Regions from separate parts of the Homo sapiens genome. Here regions 1, 2, 3 and 4 are each reported to be linked to region 5. The links are microRNA targets in miRTarBase. Many come from high-throughput screens and were not tested one by one. Region 5 holds a microRNA gene; each other region holds the end of a gene's coding sequence. Distances are from middle to middle.

What was found. Region 5 holds the annotated microRNA hsa-miR-4649-3p (UCUGAGGCCUGCCUCUCCCCA, at 2,148-2,168, shown strand). A microRNA usually pairs through its seed, bases 2 to 8, with sites in the 3' UTR of a target mRNA and lowers its output. Matches are read on the target gene's strand: a 7mer-m8 pairs with bases 2 to 8, a 7mer-A1 pairs with bases 2 to 7 and ends in A, and an 8mer does both.
Region 1: miRTarBase lists MRPL49 as a target of hsa-miR-4649-3p. Seed matches in the 3' UTR shown: 7mer-m8 at 565-571 and 7mer-m8 at 886-892.
Region 2: the mRNA of STEAP2 is a reported target of hsa-miR-4649-3p. Seed matches in the 3' UTR shown: 7mer-m8 at 1,701-1,707 and 8mer at 904-911.
Region 3: miRTarBase lists SPPL2A as a target of hsa-miR-4649-3p. Seed matches in the 3' UTR shown: 7mer-m8 at 2,260-2,266, 7mer-m8 at 3,309-3,315 and 8mer at 3,442-3,449.
Region 4: the mRNA of ATP6V0D2 is a reported target of hsa-miR-4649-3p. Seed matches in the 3' UTR shown: 7mer-m8 at 2,301-2,307 and 7mer-m8 at 2,167-2,173.

Annotation. Positions count from the first base shown.
Region 1 is chr11:65,125,362-65,129,361 of GRCh38, forward strand. MRPL49 (mitochondrial ribosomal protein L49) reads left to right here. Exons shown (of 4, transcript NM_004927.4): 3 at 127-251; 4 at 365-2,010. The coding sequence ends at 511. It overlaps SYVN1 (synoviolin 1), which reads right to left. Exons shown (of 16, transcript NM_172230.3): 15 at 3,202-3,353; 16 at 1,918-3,127. The coding sequence ends at 3,021. Among named protein-coding and RNA genes, the nearest start is that of MIR6751, 2.6 kb to the right of the region's middle.
Region 2 is chr7:90,232,370-90,236,369 of GRCh38, reverse strand. It overlaps STEAP2 (STEAP2 metalloreductase), which reads right to left. Exons shown (of 6, transcript NM_001244944.2): 6 at 1-4,000. The coding sequence ends at 3,746. Among named protein-coding and RNA genes, the nearest start is that of CFAP69, 11 kb to the left of the region's middle. RefSeq lists a silencer at 1,605-1,810.
Region 3 is chr15:50,704,555-50,708,554 of GRCh38, reverse strand. It overlaps SPPL2A (signal peptide peptidase like 2A), which reads left to right. Exons shown (of 15, transcript NM_032802.4): 15 at 681-4,000. The coding sequence ends at 755. Among named protein-coding and RNA genes, the nearest start is that of TRPM7, 20 kb to the right of the region's middle.
Region 4 is chr8:86,152,188-86,156,187 of GRCh38, reverse strand. ATP6V0D2 (ATPase H+ transporting V0 subunit d2) reads right to left here. Exons shown (of 8, transcript NM_152565.1): 8 at 1,963-3,372. The coding sequence ends at 3,211. Among named protein-coding and RNA genes, the nearest start is that of ATP6V0D2, 55 kb to the right of the region's middle.
Region 5 is chr7:44,108,744-44,112,895 of GRCh38, forward strand. It overlaps MIR4649 (microRNA 4649), which reads left to right and starts at 2,106; the gene lies at 2,106-2,169. AEBP1 (AE binding protein 1) reads left to right here. Exons shown (of 21, transcript NM_001129.5): 7 at 156-233; 8 at 364-441; 9 at 545-598; 10 at 1,272-1,381; 11 at 1,464-1,603; 12 at 1,982-2,066; 13 at 2,170-2,314; 14 at 2,411-2,496; 15 at 2,764-2,887; 16 at 3,111-3,307; 17 at 3,399-3,578; 18 at 3,815-4,152.

The sequences.
Region 1 (4,000 bases), not on the chromosome of region 5:
TAAAGTCTGGAGGTGGCTTGGTCCAGCTGGGTGCACTGGCCCTCTGCAGACTGAGAGCAAGGGCCTTGGCTGAGGTGGGATGGCACGTAGGAAGAGTTGATTTAACAGTGTCTTTCCCTGTTGCAGACCCCCCACCCAACCTGCCTTACTTTGTACGACGCTCTCGGATGCACAACATCCCCGTCTACAAGGACATCACGCATGGCAACCGGCAGATGACTGTGATCCGGAAAGTGGAAGGGGACATCTGGGTAAGTGGGTGGGTGGGTCTGGGACTGGGCCTGACCCTTTCAGGGCTGAAGGGACAGGAGTCTTTTTAAGGGAAGGGACTCTTGGCCTGACCTGATTTGTCATCTTTCCCCAGGCCCTGCAGAAAGACGTGGAAGATTTTCTGAGCCCGCTGCTGGGGAAGACACCTGTCACCCAGGTCAATGAGGTGACAGGTACCCTACGGATCAAGGGCTACTTTGACCAGGAGCTTAAAGCCTGGCTCTTGGAGAAAGGCTTCTGAGGCCCAGCCGAGCAGCCTGCTTGTCAGCATGCCCTGTGGATCAAGTCTAGGGGGCCTCAGGAGGAGGGAGGTGGGTGTTGGAGCCCCTGAGACAGGGGATACAGAAACTAGGGCTAAAGGACTTTGGGGTCAGGCCTTGCTTGCATAAAGGAGAAAACAACTCTATGTACATGCTGGGGGAGAGTGCCTAATGTGGGAGACCAAATAGGGATCACCAGGCTAATGGGGGGCGTCAGCAGCTTTCTCTCCCTCCTATCTTGGCCTGTTCTTTTTTGTTTTTTGAGACGGAGTCTCACTCTGTTGCCCAGGGTGGAGTGCAGTGGCATGATCTTGGCTCACTGCAACTTCCACCTCTGGGATCAAGGGATTCTCCTGCCTCAGCCTCTTGAGTAGCTGGGATTACAGGCGCCCACCACCACAGCCTGCTAATTTTTGTATTTTTAGTAGAGATGGGGTTTCACCATGTTGGCCAGGCTGGTCTCAAACTCCTGACTCGAAGTGATCCGCCCACCTTGGCCTCCCAAAGCGTTGGGATTATAGGCATGAGCCATGTGCCTGGTCCACCTTGGCCTGTTTTGTTTTTCTTTCCTTGGGCTCAGCAATTCAAATTCTAGTTGTTATTTGGTGGAAGCAGTAGCCCAACCCCAGTTTAGGGGAAGGTAGCACAGGGCAGAGCCACTGGGCACTTTGTTTCCTTGGCCCTCCGAAGCTCACTGTTGCAAATACCCCCAAGCCTTTGCTCTAGGCCAGATCTTGTTTGGTGCAGGTGATGGAGAACACAGATGACTCGGGCATGGGTCTTGGAGATCTTCTGTTCAAAGTACAGTGCTGGCACTGGGGCACAGAGTGCCCACGTTAGCCCCGGGCTCTGATAGAGAGGTAGGAGGCACGTTCTTGGTCACTGTTCCATTGCAGACCAGACTTGCTGGCCTGACCACAAGGGAGTGGCTGGGAACTCACAGCCAGCATAGGGACATCCCCCTGCAGCCTTCTGACCTGCAATCAAGGCTGGGGAGGGGTTTGCAGGCAGGAATATGCTGACCTTTCACCCTGCCATCCCATCCCAACCCCAGCTCACTAGCCTTCATATATGCCTTATACTTGGAGTCACAGGGGCCAAAGGCCTGAGACCCCACCCTGCCCCCAAACTGGCTAAGACAGCTTTCAGTTCCTGACTCCCCAACTTGGTCTCTGCCCTGAAGCAGGGCACTGAACTCTGGGCTGCTTCTCTGTGTGTAAAATGGGCACATCTTCCTAATCTGTTAATGGTCAGTGGTGTCCCCAAGGATAGTGCTGGCTTCCATGGAAACCCTCACTCCTGGAGATTCCATTCCATTTTCAAGTGTACAGCCACAGCAAGGAGCCCGACACTGATTTGATCGATTCTGTGACACAAACCCCACCAATTGTTAATGCAAGTTTTTATTTGGCTGTATATACAATTTAAGCTATTAAAATTTGTACAATATTTACAAATTAAATAATCATCTGAAACTGTCTCCAACAACTCTTGTAACACAAAACCAAGGGGAAAAGACAGGGGCAGGCAGGTCCCAGCTCCTGTGGTCCCTCCTTGGCACAGAGCCTTTTCTAAACTGGAAAGACCAGGAGTCTGGCACTCCTGTTCCTCTTTCCCGGGATTAAGCATTCAACTTCAAAAGACAAAATTTAAGCCAAAAGACACTAGTAAGGAAGTAATTCCAATTCTAAACTTCAGAAGTTCTGCCAGTTGAGAAGTGGCCTTCCTTGGGCGCTGGGATTGCAGTGGTCAGGAGCAGGCGCACTGGCCCTTGCCTGGAGTGCGGCTGGGCAGTGGCTGCTGGGTGAGACAGGTCAGTCTCACTTGAGAAGCTGCAGAGGAAAGGGGCCTGGGGGGAGGGGCGGGGCAGGGTCCCTCAGTGCTGCCCGCCTGCACCCCCACTCCCAGGCATTCCTTTCCCTGAGTTGTGTGGTTGCCAGTAAGACGCAGAAATGCCACAGGGCATAGGGGGCACAGCCACCACCACAAGAGGCTTCTGGGGAGATCAGGGTAAGAAAAGGAAATGGGTACCAGTCTTAGGGGTGGGCCAGCGAGCAAGTTCATAGCTTGCCTCCAGCCCCTCTGGAGTCCACACTTGGGAACGGGAGCTAATACTGTTCGGCACTGCAGTGTGACTCCGCACATACAAGTAGGGCTTGGAGGGGCAGCCCCTTCTCCTGGAAAGGGGTGGGGGAAGAAGAGGGCTTCTCAGAGGCTAAACCTTCTGCCTTCATGGCCCCAGCAGAACACAGGGCTGAAGAGTTGGAGAGGAAGGCTGGAACTGACCCGAGATCCCCATGGCTGCCTGGGACTGGAGTCAAATGGGAACCCCAGCCTCTTTCCACTTGGCCTAGGGGATGCCGCCTCTTTCTCAGAGCTGGGGGTACTACTCCCTGGTGCAGACAGAGAGGGAGCTGGCACTTGGTGGCAGGACATGTTCCAGCGAGGGCTGCTCAAAAGAGCAGAGGCTGGGGCTGGGCTGGGGCAGTGTCAGTGGGCAACAGGAGACTCCAGCTTCTGCAGGCGGCGCCGGCGGAGCTCTGCTGCATCGGGCTCTCCATCCTCAGGCATCTCCTCTGTGCCCACTGACTCAGGAGCTGGGGACAGAGAGACTGGAAGTGGAACCTAGAGAAGTTCCCTGCTCCCCCGGCTGGAGGCCAATCACACCTACCTGGAGGCCTTTCCATTTCAGGGGCTGGTGGGGAGGCTCCTGGGGTTGGGGTCGTGGCCTCTGAGCTAGGGATGCTGGTGGAGGAGGCAGCAGCAACAACTGTAGTGGCAGTCTCCTCAGTGGAGTTGACTGAAGTGGCAGGCCGGGGGGGCCTGGGAAGAGAAGGGACGAGAGGCGGGCCTGGCCTTGGCATCCAAGGTTGGGCAGATTCTCCTGCCCTTGGTGAGCCTTGCAGAACAGAGTATAGAATGATGTGCCCTTGTGGCCCCAGTGCCTGGCAAACACAAGTGAACATGCTGAATGAACTCAGACAGGGTGACTGGACTCAAGGGCCAAATGATTCTATCCCTTAGCTGTAAGGTGCTTGCAGGCAGGGACTGTTGACCTGTTCACTCTTACCCTGCAGTCTCCACCCTGGGGAGTCAGGCACCTTATAGGGGACTCACTCAATAAGCCACAGTGCTCGAGCCTTGGACTCAAGTTCCTCTCCAAGCCTGTGCTGTCACTGCTAGATGCCAGGCATTATGTACATGTCACTTTTTTAAAAGACAGCGTCTCGGCTCTGTCACCAAAGCTGGAATTTAGTGGCACAATCATAGCTCACTGCACCCTCAAATTCCTAGGCTCAAACAATCCTCCTGCCTCAGCCTTCCAAAGTGCTGATTATAGGTGTGTATCTGGCAGTACACATCACTTATGAATATGAATTAAGACCCCTTTATTCAAATAATGAGAGGTCAAAAATGAGTGATGGGACCAGCGCTTGAACTTGAGCCAGGATGGCTCCAAGTGACTTCCT
Region 2 (4,000 bases), 46 Mb from region 5:
CAACACATTTTAGGCTGTTTACGTATTTCAAAACAGGGATTTCATAGACTGACACAGGAATAATTAGTTCAGTGTTCACAGTATTCCTAAATAAATATTTACTTATTACATTTATGATACTTTATTTAAAATACCACATTAGAAACTTTAAATATTTCATAAATAAATCTCTTTTTTGGGGGGAAACTGTACAGAATTTATTATGAAATAGCTTAATGGCAAGTGGTAATTTAGAAGAATTAAGTTATCAGATAGGAGATATATTAAAATATTTAAAAATTGGATATATTCTTGAAGCCCTTTTACACAAGTAATTTCTATAATTTGATTGTAATGAAAGTATAATATACCTTGTTACTATTATCAGATTAATTTTTGAAAGTAGAATTCCTTAATCAAGCCAAGGTTATGCTGCTTTATAAGAAATTAATCAGGTAGTTTAACACTAGAGCTCATTAGCCAACCTGTATGTAGCACAAAATAATCATCTCTGATAAATACCTATAAATATATTTTATTCATACTTTTAAATATTTTACAATTCAAATAAAAACCTTATATGTAGACAATCTGGGCTAAATTTCCATGTATGTTTTGAAAAATAATGTTAGCATGAATAGATTCATATTTAAATATGATTTTAAATACTCTTAATAGAGGAGACATAAGAAATATTTACATAAAAGCTAAGTAGCATGATACAGCTCATGGTTATTTTCCTCATAGGAAAACAATTACTTGATTTTTTTTTTTGCATAGGATTAAGACTGAGTATCTTTTCTACATTCTTTTAACTTTCTAAGGGGCACTTCTCAAAACACAGACCAGGTAGCAAATCTCCACTGCTCTAAGGTTCTCACCACCACTTTCTCACACCTAGCAATAGTAGAATTCAGTCCTACTTCTGAGGCCAGAAGAATGGTTCAGAAAAATAATGATTATAAAAAATAACAATTAAGAAAAATAATCACATAGAGGTAAAATAAAGCAACTAAACATCATAGTTTTGCATTTTTAGAAAAGCATTTAAACATTTAGAATTATAGTAAATATATTACATTTATTCTAAAACTTCAAAATTATTCTGTTTTTGTAGTACTGAAAAGAAGATAGTGCCATTTGAAACAACAGATGCATCTTTTATACATTTTCACAAGTTTGTTTTTCATATTTTTAAAGGCCCCATTTATCTGTAACAGTGGTATTTTTATTTAGAGTATCGGCTACTTAATATATACATGCAACAATATATGCTTTAATAGTCATTTAACTTTTAGGAATATTTCATCACATTAAGTGGTTAAGCATAGTGTTAAAAGAGTGGAATTTAAGGAATAAGAAAATATTGAAAATACGCTGTTATTTTCATTAGTTCACTATAATAGAATGTTTTTGCCCATAAAAGTTATCATTGCCCAACTGAATTCCTACCAAGAACTAACAAGTGATTCTCAAGTGGGGAGAAATATTATTAAAATAAAGAAAATAGAGGGCTCAGTTAGAAAGTACAAGATAATAGGCCGGGCGCGGTAGCTCACACCTGTAATCCCAGCACTTTGGAGGCCAAGGCGGGCGGATCACGAGGTCAGGAGATCGAGACCATCCTGGCTAACACGGTGAAACTCCGTCTCTACTAAAAATACAAAAAGAAATCAGCCGGGCATGGTGGCGGGCACCTGTAGTCCCAGCTACTCGGGAGGCTGAGGCAGGAGAATGGCGTGAACCCGGGAGGCAGAGCTTGCAGTGAGCCGAGATCGTGCCACTGCACTCCAGCCTGGGTGACAGAGCAAGACTCTGTCTTTAAAAAAAAAAAAAAAAAAAAAGAGGGTACAAGATAATAAAATTCACCAAGAGAACATTAGAAAATCATAAGTGAATTACCAAACTGACAAGGCAGTTGTAGAAAAAGAGTCACTGGTGGGAAAGGTAGCCTCTACTAAATAAAAGTCTTTTTATTGTTGGCAGTTGGATTCAGTAGTACCTACGTGGGTAAGTTTAGAAATGTTATAATTTCAGGAAGAGGAACGCATATAATTGTATCTTGCCTATAATTTTCTATTTTAATAAGGAAATAGCAAATTGGGGTGGGGGGAATGTAGGGCATTCTACAGTTTGAGCAAAATGCAATTAAATGTGGAAGGACAGCACTGAAAAATTTTATGAATAATCTGTATGATTATATGTCTCTAGAGTAGATTTATAATTAGCCACTTACCCTAATATCCTTCATGCTTGTAAAGTACTCCCTAATGAATGGTTATGCAGGCAGGAGAACTTCTCAGGAAGAGAAAAGGAGAAGACTAACTCTACAGAGATTTTTGAAAGACTCCGTGGGATCTCAGCAATTTGTTAACACTGCTAGGGCCCTTCACTGCATAGGGAGGCATATGGACTGCCATGGGTCTCCAGGCTCATGTTCCAAGCAAGAATAGGGTAAGTAACTGTGAATTACCCTACAAGCAGTAATAAGTTTATTATAATAATATTTTTATACATTTTTGGATGCACCCAACCCACTCTAAAGAATGTCAGTGACTTTATACAAAAGAGGAAGCATCTAGATTGGCATTGTGAACATAATGCATAGGGGCGCGGCGGGAGCTCTAGAGCCTAGTGGTTAAAACCGTGGCCTCTGGAATATGACTACCTGGACTTGAATGCTCACTCTGCCATTTATTAACTGCAAGACCTTTGAAAAATAACTTTTCTATCCTTCGGTCCCTCATGTGTAAAATGAGGATAATAACTACTTATCTCACGGGGTTGTTCTAAGTATTAAATGGGATAATACAAGTAAAGTACTTAGAACCATGCCTAGCACATCAGAATCCCTCAAAGAACATCAGTATAATCCTATACCATAGCAAGTGGTGACTGGTTAAGGTGCGACAAAGGTCAGCTGGCAGATTACTTGTGTGCAAACTTGATACTTTTGTTCTAAGTAGGAACTAGTATACAGTTCCTAGGATTGGTACCGTATTAGAGATAGCAGTTTTGGAAGCCAAATGTTACTGAATCCTCTTCCTGATCAGTATATTAATATGAAAATGAAACTGCTCTGTAACACAATAAAGAATAAAATCTTTCATGAGGTATGTATTATCAGTATGTATTTCATGTCTCAAATATATTTTAAATATAATTTCAGGTTTAATTTGTCTTTTTAATTTGTGTCTCTTCATATAATCACATTGCTTCATACAATTAATTTCATCCTTCAAATCCTATTTTATGAGAGAAATATAGGAATGCTATCATGCAGCCTTACCTAGATGCTAACATAACGTGTCCTTTCTTAAAAAAATGTATAATAATGCATTTCTACTTTTTAAGTTGAATAATTAAAATCTTAATCTTCAGAAAAAAATGTATATCCATTGAATTATTTTAAAAGCTTAAAATTCTGCTGGTTTGCAAATTGTTTTTAACATTATATCTATATTATTAACTGTAAGTATTTTTGCCTGATTATGAAATATAAAGTAACAACAGGGTTACAGTTGTGCAAAACAAAACAAAACATACCTAAATTACAATAATATGTTGACTAGAAAAATTCATATTGGCAAACATGACATTTGTGAAAATTAACTTGAAGAAAACTCTATCACTAAGTCAGTTGAAATCTCATTTAACAAGTTTCAACCCACGATAATTTGACAGCATACTTGTAACTGAACGTAGAAGTCATAAAAATAATGGCATGAGTAGAACTTTATATGGCAGCTGTGAACACCATTTGTCATCACATTACTGTGACCCTCTCCGGGGAGACATGAGGAATTGTTCCTCCCATACCTTCTTCCAGAAATTGGCTCTTTTCCCAGCCTTTTTTAATTCGTTTTAGCTTTCGGCTTATACATGGAAGGAATAAAATAATCTTACCCAGAATTACAATTGAGGGCAAAACAAGAGCAAGAACAAAGTTTGGTGGTGTATAAAATCTGTAGTACTCTTCCTCAAAAGCTCGTTTCCATCCATAAATTAAAACATGGAAAGT
Region 3 (4,000 bases), not on the chromosome of region 5:
TTTGTATTTTTATTAGAGACGGGGTTTCACCATCTTGGCCAGGCTGGTCTCGAACTCCTGACCTCATGATCTGCCCATCTCAGCCTCCCAAGGTGCTGGGATTACAGGTGTGAGCCACTGCGCCCGGCCTAGCAAATGTATTCTTGGTTTTGTTTTCAGATATCATATGACCTCAAGTTCATTTTTTGTAGAAATTATTATAATGTTTCCAAAGTTTAAATTATCTTACGGTTATTTCAAGGTGTCAATAATATCACACTGTCCCAGAGTCAGCAGGTATTCTCACAGTGACTCATGAGGCCATTTTTAGTTTTCCCATTTGTATGATTGGACACTGCCTGGAATAGTGTCCTGGAATAAGTGTCAGGAATATCTTCCTTTTGTTCTGGAGTTCTCACTGCCATGAAGGGCAGTATTCATATTGGGAAATGGAGATAACGGAAGATCCAGAGAACACAAATTGGCTTTGAGTCATGTGATTAGGCTTCCTGAGAGGTTCAGTGTCACCCTGACTATCTCCTTAGAAGTGTGGATGTTGAACCAGAACAGTGCTCCAGAAGGAGTGCTCAGTTTCATAGAGCAATCTGTGTTTTTTAGAAAAAGAATCCTTTTGCTAATGTAGTGAATATTGGGGGCAAGTTGAAATTTTGCATTTCCTAACGTCTTTTATTTATGCCTAGATGATGGACCATTTGGATTGTGCAACAAATGAAGAAAACCCTGTGATATCTGGTGAACAGATTGTCCAGCAATAATATTATGTGGAACTGCTATAATGTGTCATTGATTTTCTACAAATAGACTTCGACTTTTTAAATTGACTTTTGAATTGACAATCTGAAAGAGTCTTCAATGATATGCTTGCAAAAATATATTTTTATGAGCTGGTACTGACAGTTACATCATAAATAACTAAAACGCTTTGCTTTTAATGTTAAAGTTGTGCCTTCACATTAAATAAAACATATGGTCTGTGTAGTTTCCGAGATGTACTATATACAGTATATTTTTCTAAAAAAAAATGCCTTGACCCACCCCTATACTTTTTTTTAACGAAATCTGTTTCTTTCAGCTCTGATGGTAGATACAAGTAGTTACTATTTCTGAATGGGTTTTACTGTAAAGAATTATGCAAATTGGCCAGGCGCGGTGGCTCACGCCTGTAATCCCAACACTTTGGGAGGCCAAGGCGGGCGGATCACGAGGTCAGGAGATCGAGACCATCCTGGCTAACACGGTGAAACCCCTCTCTACTAAAAATACCAAAAATTAGCTGGGCGTGGTGGAGGGTGCCTGTAGTCCCAGCTACTGGGAAGGCTGAGACAGGAGAATGGCGTGAACCCGGGAAGTGGAGCTTGCAGTGAGCCAAGATCACGCCACTGCACTCCAGCCTGGGCGACAGAGTGAGACTCCATCCCAAAAAAAAAGATTTATGCAAATTATATCTGCTCTGTAGAAATAACTGTTTAACACCATGCAAGAAGGCGGTTCAACGGTGAAAATTTGGACCTTATATCACTGCAGAGGTTAGAAATACATAATTTTGGAAATATAAGTGCATATTTTTGTAGTATTTTTTTAAACCCAATCCTTTCATAAACTTGAGAACTGAAATTACTTCAGACTGCACGTGTATTATATTAAGAACATTTTTCCAGATATAGAGAAACATAATATATAGAACTAGTCACTAAAAGGAGACAGACACTGAAATCTAGTTTTCATTGGTTTGACAGCCTTTTTTTTTTAAATGTAGCTTAAATTTCAGTACTAACATTCAGTTTCACTTTGGTATTTCTGATCTTTGCAATTTGGTTCTGTTAATGTTAAGGTTTGATTTTTTAAAAAAATTATTTTTCTTAAGAAATTATGTATTAATACATATGGCTCATCGTTGAATACAGCATTCCTAACATTATCCCACATTCCCCCACTCCCACCCGTTATCTTTTTTTCTTCCTGATGCCCACCCCTTTTCCCATAGGTAATGATTCTTAATCTTGGTGGAGGATGTACAAAGTGCGGTTCAGAGAAAAGAATTGGCAACAACAGCAAGAGACTTGGTGTTAGTCTCAGTTTAATTACAATACAAGGAAGAGTTGAGTAATTTGCCGCATCTCAAGACCTTGTATCTCAGTTTTCTTTTTTTTTTTTTTTTTTTTTTTGAGACGGAGTCTCGCTCTGTCGCCCAGGCTGGAGTGCAGTGGCGGGATCTCGGCTCACTGCAAGCTCCGCCTCCCGGGTTCACGCCATTCTCCTGCCTCAGCCTCCCAAGTAGCTAGGACTACAGGCGCCCGCCACTACGCCCGGCTATTTTTTGTAGTTTTAGTAGAGACGGGGTTTCACCGTTTTAGCCGGGATGGTCTCGATCTCCTGACCTCGTGATCCGCCCGCCTCGGCCTCCCAAAGTGCTGGGATTACAGGCGTGAGCCACCGCGCCCGGCCATATCTCAGTTTTCTAATCTGTAAAATGAGTAGGTTAGACCAGCTAATCACTCTGGTACCTTCCAACTTGAAAAAAGTTTTTTCCCCATTCTTTGGTAAATTTTAGATGTGGCCTGAACATTCTCCTGGAAGTCAGAGGTCAAATTATCTTTCCATTTTCTTTTATTTTAGTAAGAATTTCGCAAATGACAAGTGATAACAAAGGCAGCAGGATTTTTCATTTCTCTGTAAATAATGTATAAAATATGTGAACAGAACTATATCTTTCATCTAAGGCCAGTTCAATTTATTAAAAATAAAACTAATGCCTTTTAAAATTGATCAGACCTTTGATACTTGAACTAAATTTTGCATTAGAGACTTTTTAAAAATTGTTCGCTTTTGCTGAATAAATTGCAAATAGAGAAGCTTCATTGACAGTCAGTCCCTCTCTGCTTAATGCAGTTATGGGTCCTTTCGTTTATGGCAAATGACTTACCTGACAAGAGTTAATTTTGCCTCCATTGTATCAAGTTTGAATATTTTCCAAGAAATCTGATTTATTTGGCAGACTCTGAGAGAGAGAACAGATTAAGTGCCGTTTTAAAACTCTGTATTTTCATTTATAATAATAAAATATTTGCCAAAATACAGCTGTTTTGTAAAATTATCTGCACCCTCATCCAAGCTTTATATTTAATAGCCTTAATCACATTTTATGAAGAATGTTAAAGAAAATTTTTTTTTTACTACATCGAAATGAGATAATTAATTTCTTTTTTTTTTTTTTGGAAATGGAGTCTCCCTCTGTCACCCAGGCTGGAGTGCAGTAGCAAGATCTTGGCTCACTACAACCTCTGCCTCCTGGTTCAAGCAATTTTCCTGCCTCAGCCTCCCAAGTAGACGGGATTACAGGTGCGTGCCACCACACCTGGCTAATTTTTGTATTTTTAGTAGAGACGGGGTTTCACCTTGTTGGTCAGGCTGGTCTTGAGCTCCTGACCTCATGATCTGCCCGCCTCAGACTCCCCAAGTGCTGGGATTGCAGGCATGAGCCACCGCGCCTGGCAAAATAAGATAATTTCTCAAAATAATTTGGTTTCATATAACTGGAGTAGTAATTAATATTTTAACTTCATCAACTAGATGTATCTCCTCAGTAGCATAGTAACTGGTACATCCAGAAATCTGAAATCCGAGTTACTTGATACAAATTCTACTTTATCTAACCATTAGTTATTAAGGAGGTAAAATCTTGTTCTAATTTGCTATTAAAATCTTATTGGTTAAATAGAAATAAGAAAAAGTATAATTAAGTTTCTTCATCCTCAATGTCAACTTTATATTGTAATTAAATGTGTAGCAACCAAGCTGACAATAGTGATTAAGAAATTAAAGTACAGAAATATTTTATTTGGGGACTCAAAATGAACAAAAGATAGATAAGATTAAAATTTCACTTAAAAAGCTGCCATCTCTTCCTCTCTTGCCCTCCCACCACCAATAACTTTAAGGGGAAGAGAAGCTGGTTTTTTCCCTAAACATGTCTTTAAAATAATGATACACTGTATTTATT
Region 4 (4,000 bases), not on the chromosome of region 5:
TTGGAATATAATGTTCTGACACCAACTGCAGCAGATAGAGGAGGGAATTTGAGGGACTGATGAAATGTTCAGGAGGAGGGTGGAGAAGGGATGGTGAGGAGCCTCAGCTTCAGTTACTTAGAACAAGAAATTAATTTTTTTTATTTTTTGAGACGGAGTCTTGCTGTGTGGCCCGGGCTGGACTGTAGTGGTCCAATCTTGACTTACTGCAACCTCCGCCTCTCAGGCTCAAGCAATCCTCCCACCTCAGCCTCCCGAGTAGCTGGGACTACAGGCCTGTGTCACCACACCTGGCTAATTTTTGTGTTTTTAGTGGAGACGGGGTTTTACCATGTTGGTCAGGCTGGTCTCAAATGCCTGACCTCAAGTGATTCACCTGCCTTGGCCTCCCAAAATGCTGGGAGTACAGGTGTGAGCCACTGCACCCTGCCCAAGAAATTAGTCTTTGCCTCACTGTTTTCTGTGTTCCATGTATAGTATCTGAACTTTTGGGCCTCATTTTGTAAGATGTTTTTCAAAGGTTCATGTTTTCCATTGCAGCCCAGTTCCCTGAGGCATGATGAAGCAGTCAGATCCCAGCTCAGCCACTGAAAAGCTATGAAACTTCAAGGCAAATTCTTCAAATCACAATGTATATATCCTTATCCATGCTAGGTGCACTTTCTACTTGCCTCAAGGGATTAGGGAAGTTCCTCTCTTCTGTATTCACATAATGGTTGGACTCTTGGGTGGCTGAGGAAGGGGTTGGAAGGATTGGAATCGTCTGTTTATATCCAGAGAAAGGGAATTTAACTTCAGCCTGCAGCCTTGTGGCACATTAAGGGCCCTACCCATATCATGTAGAGGTGGGGTGGGAAGGGGATAGTCTGAGAATCACCTTGGTGCCTTTCTTTAAGCTATCCCTTTCCCATCAGTGTCTTTTCCTCCCGACCTTTAAGGGAGCCCTAAGCCTTAAACCCATCACCAGAAACCACAAGTTAAAATGTACAATAGAGGTGTCTCTGGGTCCAACCCCCCACCCCCCCGTGAAGGACAGCATCCTGAGCAAGGCAGGGAAGATGCTTTCCAGACCAGGGGCCACACTTGGTCAGTGGCTGCTTTGGCTCCAGCTGATGGGTCTGCACTGGAGCCCTCCAGGGGGCACTTCAAGTACTAACAGGACCCTGGTGTGGGCTGGGCCTCCTGCATAGATGTGAGGCTAGGCACTTGGCTTTCTTCCTGGTTCTATGAGCTACTATTTTACTGTATGCTTAAAAGTTCCTTTTGGCCGGGCGTTGTGGCTGTAATCCTAGCACTTAGGGAAGTCGAGGTGGGAGGATTGCCTGAGTTTGAGATCAGCCTGGGCAACATGTAGAGACACTGTCTCTACCTTAAAAAAGAAAAAAAAAATTAGGCAGTTGTGGTGGCACACACCTCTGGTTCCAGCTACTTGGGAGGCTGAGAGGCAGGAGGATCACTTGAGCCTGGGAGGTGGAGGCTCCAGTAACCTGTGATCCCACCACTGCATTCCAGCCTGGGTGATGGAGCAAGACCCTGTTTCAACAACAACAAAAAAGTTCCTATCACTAAAATTATTAAAATATTTAACTAAAAAAGCTAGATTTTTGAAGAAAATTTGATTTACTCCTTGGTCTATGCATCTAATTCTAGATATCAGTATTTGTATACTCTCTGTACATATTCTGATTTGAAGAATTTTCAAATATATATGGGTTTATTTTTTAAAACATGGCAAATATAGATTTTACATTTAGGAATATGTTAATATGTTTTATATTTAAAGGAAGGACTTGAGCAGTGCTTTGTTGTCTTTTTTTTCCTGGTAGCTCTATGCACCATTTCTACTGAGATTTTAATAGATAATTCATACCCTGAAAACTGAACCTGCGATTTTTGAATGAGTAAACTACAATTAAGGAGGTCATTTTCTTCTCATGTAAAGAAGGAAGAAACCACAAGAAAGAGAGATATACCTTTTATTTAAAGAAAGGTGTGAAAAGCAAATTTATTAACAAATTTAACACTGCTTGCATCTAGAAGATAGGATTTGAAATTGTGTTGCTTTCTCAAGCTGATTACATCAAAGTATATTAGAAAACAAAAACAAAATAAGGGGCCAGGTGCAGTGGCTGAACAAGGGGCCTGTAATCCCAGCACTTTGGGAGGCTGAGGCGGGTGGATCATGAGCTCAGGAGTTCAAGATCAGCCTGGCCAAGATGGTGAAACCCCGGCTCTACTAAAAATACAAAAAATTAGCTGAGTGTAGTGGTGGGTGCTTGTAATCCCAGCTACTCGGGAGGCTGAGGCAGAGAGTTGCTTGAATCTGGGAGGTGGAGGTTGCAGTGAGCCGAGATCACGCCATTGCACTCTAGCCTGGGCGACAGAGGGAAACTCTGTCTCAAAACAAAACGAAACAAAACAAAACAAAACAAAAAACACATTTTCCAACACTTGTGAACCATGTTGACTACATACAGCTTTGGATTTCTGTGAATCTAGGCAAGGAACAGACAGTTAAAATGTAAATGAAGCCCAGCACAGTGGCTCATGCATGTAATCCCAACACTTTGGGAGGCCAAGGGGGACTGTGGATCCCTGGAGCCCAGGAATTCGACACCAGCCTGGATAATATGTTGAAACCCTGTCTCTACAAAAAATACAAAACTTAGCCTTGTGTGGGGGTGTACACTTGTAGTGCCAGCTACTTTGGAGGCTGAGAGCTGGGAGGATCACTTGAGCCTGGGAAGTCGAGGCTGCAGTGAGCTGTGATCACACCACTGCACTGTAGCCTAGGTGACAGAGTGAGACCCTGTCTAGAAAAAAATTTAAAAGAGAAAAAGTAAAGGAGACATTCAGTATTTGGACCTGTAGAGAAGCATGGAAAAGCAAGAATAAAATACTTTTATTAGGTCCAATTTTTAACATGATCAAACAAGAATAAGAAAAATACCATAGAGTTAATTAAAACTAACCTGTAAGGCCCAGTGAAGAATGAGACAGACATGTGGAAACAAGATCTAATACCACTGAAAACAAGGAAATGCTTTGTTTCAGGGCTGGTTTACTGTGTTTCCATGGATTTGCAACTCATGAAGATATAGTGTGGCTTACTTTTGTGTAGTCTAGATAATATAACATAATTTCTTTTATTTTCTTCAATAACTTCCTTTTAACATTTATAATTTTCTACATTTGAGAACCTTACTTGGGTTATAAAATTGGAATGTAACTGTTGATTTTAGTTCGATGCCTCTGTGAAATACATTCTGCTATCCACACAATATTTCTAATTTCCTGTTCCTTCAGCTTTACATATGCATAAAACACACCGTAGTGGAACTGTCTGTTGAATGCCAGCACATTCATTTGTACCTGAGGAAAGAAAAAAAGTAACACAGATCATCAACTTATTTGGAACATTATGGAATAATATTAAGCTACTGACTGGCTTGAACTTGTGCAGTGCTTATTTGTGTTTAAACAGGCAATCTCTAAATTGGGCCAAATAGAGGAGTATGGTGACAACTCAGAAAGTTCTAAAGAGAGAGTGTCACTCTGCAGATAAATGTAGACAACGGAAGTTATTAAAGTAAGTTTGTAGAATCACAAGAAAAGCTCCAAATTGAAATAGGAACGCTTTCACACTGTTAGTGGGAGTGTAAATTAGTTCAACCATTGTGGAAGATAGTGTGGCAATTCTTCAAGGATCTAGAACCAGAAATATCATTTGACCCAGCGATCCCATTACTGGGTATATACCTAAAAGATTATAAATCATCCTACTATAAAGACACCTGCACACATATGTTTATTGCAGCACTTTTCCCAATAGCAAAGACTTGGAACCAACCCAAATGCCCATCAGTGATAGCCTGGATAAAGAAAATGTGGCACATATATACCATGGAATACTATGCAGCCATAAAAAAGGATGAGTTCATGTCCTTTGCAGGGACATGGATAAAGCTGGAGACCATCATTCTCAGCAAACTAACACAGG
Region 5 (4,152 bases):
TGACTCCTGCAAGACCCTCTCCCAACTCAGCTGTCCCCCATCTCCCGTCCTCCTCCCCTCTGGCGCGGTCCTGTCCTGCTGAGCTCCTGTGGACCCAGGAGCTGAGGCCCCGCAGCAGGGTCAGGGCAGCCTCAGCTGGCTCTCCCTCCCCATAGTGGACTATTACTTTGGGCCTCCTCCGCCCCAGAAGCCCGATGCTGAGCGCCAGACAGACGAAGAGAAGGAGGAGCTGAGTGAGTGGGACCAAGGACTTCCCACACCAGGCCTGCCCTGAAGGCCACCTGGGGCCTGCCTGATCCACCCCACATGGTCCTCAAAGCCCAGAGCCAGGCTGACTGGCCCCTCCTACCTTGCACCTTCCAGAGAAACCCAAAAAGGAGGACAGCAGCCCCAAGGAGGAGACCGACAAGTGGGCAGTGGAGAAGGGCAAGGACCACAAAGGTGTGTGGCTGGGGCTTGGGGCCTGGGTCCCTGTGGGGCAGCATCTGGACTCCTGATTGCCTCCCGGGCCCTTGGTGCCATGTCCTCCCTTCATTGTCCCTAGAGCCCCGAAAGGGCGAGGAGTTGGAGGAGGAGTGGACGCCTACGGAGAAAGTCAGTAAGTGGGGGGCACAAGGGGGTGAGGGTGGGGGCCACAGGATGGGGGTGCTGGGACAAGTGACTGGCCCAATGTCACAAACAGGACCCAGGTCCCCGGAACCCTTTCCTACTCAGATTCTTGGGACCCAGAAGGGAGGGGCCCCGGGAGCCCAGGATAGCCTCGCTTGGCTGCCCCAGCCCTGGACCCCAGGCTGGCCTGCTTCAGGAGGGTGGCAGCTCCCCAGGGCCCCTAGTGGCTGGGCGTGGTAGGGGGAGGACCTGGGGCCTTGGTGGGGAGTGAGGACCTCAGGTACCTTCACAGGTATCCCTGCAGGGCCATTGTGCAGACGGTCCCCATCTGGATGACATCTGTGGCTGCGCCCTGGGGGAGCTCTACCTGTGATTTCACGTGTGTCCCCTGAGAGCTGGGCATGGTCAGCCCGTTCTCCAGATGGGGCAGCTGAGGCCCAGGGAGGGGAAGCACAGGCTGGGATTGGAAACAGCTCCTGGCCTGGCTTTGAGTCGATTCCAGGTGGGCTGGTGCAGGGCACCAGGGAGCCACCAGCTGACCAGAGCTGCCCTCTGACTGTGCCCCCGATGTGCCGGGAGTGGGCTCTGGGCTCCTTGGTTCTGGGTTTGGTGGAGGGAAGGATGGAGCTAGTGAGCCACCATTCTGGGGTACGCGTCCTCAGAGTGTCCCCCCATTGGGATGGAGTCACACCGTATTGAGGACAACCAGATCCGAGCCTCCTCCATGCTGCGCCACGGCCTGGGGGCACAGCGCGGCCGGCTCAACATGCAGGTGGGCATTGGGATGGGCCCATCTCCCAACTGGGATAAGGGACTCCTCCGCCCATGCTCAGCCTCCCCTGCCCCCTGGACAGACCGGTGCCACTGAGGACGACTACTATGATGGTGCGTGGTGTGCCGAGGACGATGCCAGGACCCAGTGGATAGAGGTGGACACCAGGAGGACTACCCGGTTCACAGGCGTCATCACCCAGGGCAGAGACTCCAGCATCCAGTGCGTGGCCAGGCTCATGGATAGTTGGCAGAGGGGAGTGGCTACATAGGCATGGCTCTGTGTCCCATTAAGGAGATTCCAGTGGGCCCTTCTTTGGCCCAGCCAAAGAAGGCCAAAAAGATCAGTGAGGGACTCACCCTGCCCATCCCCACTCCTCAGCCTGGTCAGTCAGCCCCTGTGTCCTGATAGCACATGAGTTTAGGGACAGATCACCTGCCCATGGCTATGTGACGGGCATAGGACCCAGGCTCAACACCTGGGCCGTGCAGCACCACCCTGCTAGCTCTTAAATTCTTGGGGCTCGGAAGAGGGAGGCTCAGGCCACCTGAGGGCCTGGGAGGGGGAAGACCCTTGCTCTGACCACTGTCCACTCCACAGTGACGATTTTGTGACCACCTTCTTCGTGGGCTTCAGCAATGACAGCCAGACATGGGTGATGTACACCAACGGCTATGAGGAAATGGTGGGCACCATGCCCAGGCTCTTGGCTCTGCTCCCATTGTCTGGGCGAGGGGTGGGCTCTCAGAGGGGCTGGCAGTACTGCTCTGAGGCCTGCCTCTCCCCAGACCTTTCATGGGAACGTGGACAAGGACACACCCGTGCTGAGTGAGCTCCCAGAGCCGGTGGTGGCTCGTTTCATCCGCATCTACCCACTCACCTGGAATGGCAGCCTGTGCATGCGCCTGGAGGTGCTGGGGTGCTCTGTGGCCCGTGAGTGTGGAGGGCTGGCAGGGGCTCTGAGTGGAGGTGGGGTGCTAGGGTGGGCCAGCCGGCACCCAGCTAAAGACAACCCCGCCTCCCTTGCAGCTGTCTACAGCTACTACGCACAGAATGAGGTGGTGGCCACCGATGACCTGGATTTCCGGCACCACAGCTACAAGGACATGCGCCAGGTTGGGAGCATATATCCTGGGGCTGGGGGTGGGACCTGTCTGTGGCTGACGGGAGTGTGTGCCTGGTGCTTCTGTCACTGGGCCCAGTCCCTACTGGTTCCAGGGATGCTGGCTGTCCCTCACCTTAGGAAGGAGGCCAGTACCTGGGGGCTGCGTGAAGGGGTCATGCCCGTCCCTCGCCATAGAGCAGGCCCTGGAAGTGGAAGGGGCATGGTCAGCGGGGGACGGATTGCATGATTGATTCCACGTCCTCCCCCTCTGCCCCAGCTCATGAAGGTGGTGAACGAGGAGTGCCCCACCATCACCCGCACTTACAGCCTGGGCAAGAGCTCACGAGGCCTCAAGATCTATGCCATGGAGATCTCAGACAACCCTGGGGAGCATGAACTGGGTGAGGGTCTGTGGGGGCCAGCAGCTGGCCTCTGCTGCTGATGTGCAGAGCTCACTGCCTCCCGCCTGTTCCGGAGCCTCTCTGGGGATTCTGGCTTGTCTTACAGGGCCCTAGGAGCCCCAGCTGTCCCCCAGACCCTCGGGTATGAGGTGGGTCTGGGTCCTTCCTCAGCTGCCCTGGGCCTCGGGAGACTGAGTGCTCACTGAGGCTCCCGCCCTTGCAGGGGAGCCCGAGTTCCGCTACACTGCTGGGATCCATGGCAACGAGGTGCTGGGCCGAGAGCTGTTGCTGCTGCTCATGCAGTACCTGTGCCGAGAGTACCGCGATGGGAACCCACGTGTGCGCAGCCTGGTGCAGGACACACGCATCCACCTGGTGCCCTCACTGAACCCTGATGGCTACGAGGTGGCAGCGCAGATGGTGGGTTGAAGGGTGAGGCTGGCCAGGGTCCAGGCAGCTGGGGGTTGTGGGGGTGTGGGTAGCCGATGCCTACCCTGCTGGCTCCCCACAGGGCTCAGAGTTTGGGAACTGGGCGCTGGGACTGTGGACTGAGGAGGGCTTTGACATCTTTGAAGATTTCCCGGATCTCAACTCTGTGCTCTGGGGAGCTGAGGAGAGGAAATGGGTCCCCTACCGGGTCCCCAACAATAACTTGCCCATCCCTGAACGCTACCTTTCGCCAGATGCCACGGTGAGGCTACAGCCTGGCTGAAAGGGCAGGAGGGAGCAGCTGGACCCTGGGGTCCTGGTGTTCTGGGCTTGGGGGTGGGGCTGACGGTGCCTGAACTCCAGACGCTGAGGCTCTGGGGGTTGGGGGACAGGGGATCGTGCGAGTACTGGTGTGAAGCTTCATGGAGGGTGATCGGGCTAGGTTGGGGATAGTGGCCGGAGCTGCAGCCCTGGCCTCACACGTGCTGGCCACTCCAGGTATCCACGGAGGTCCGGGCCATCATTGCCTGGATGGAGAAGAACCCCTTCGTGCTGGGAGCAAATCTGAACGGCGGCGAGCGGCTAGTATCCTACCCCTACGATATGGCCCGCACGCCTACCCAGGAGCAGCTGCTGGCCGCAGCCATGGCAGCAGCCCGGGGGGAGGATGAGGACGAGGTCTCCGAGGCCCAGGAGACTCCAGACCACGCCATCTTCCGGTGGCTTGCCATCTCCTTCGCCTCCGCACACCTCACCTTGACCGAGCCCTACCGCGGAGGCTGCCAAGCCCAGGACTACACCGGCGGCATGGGCATCGTCAACGGGGCCAAGTGGAA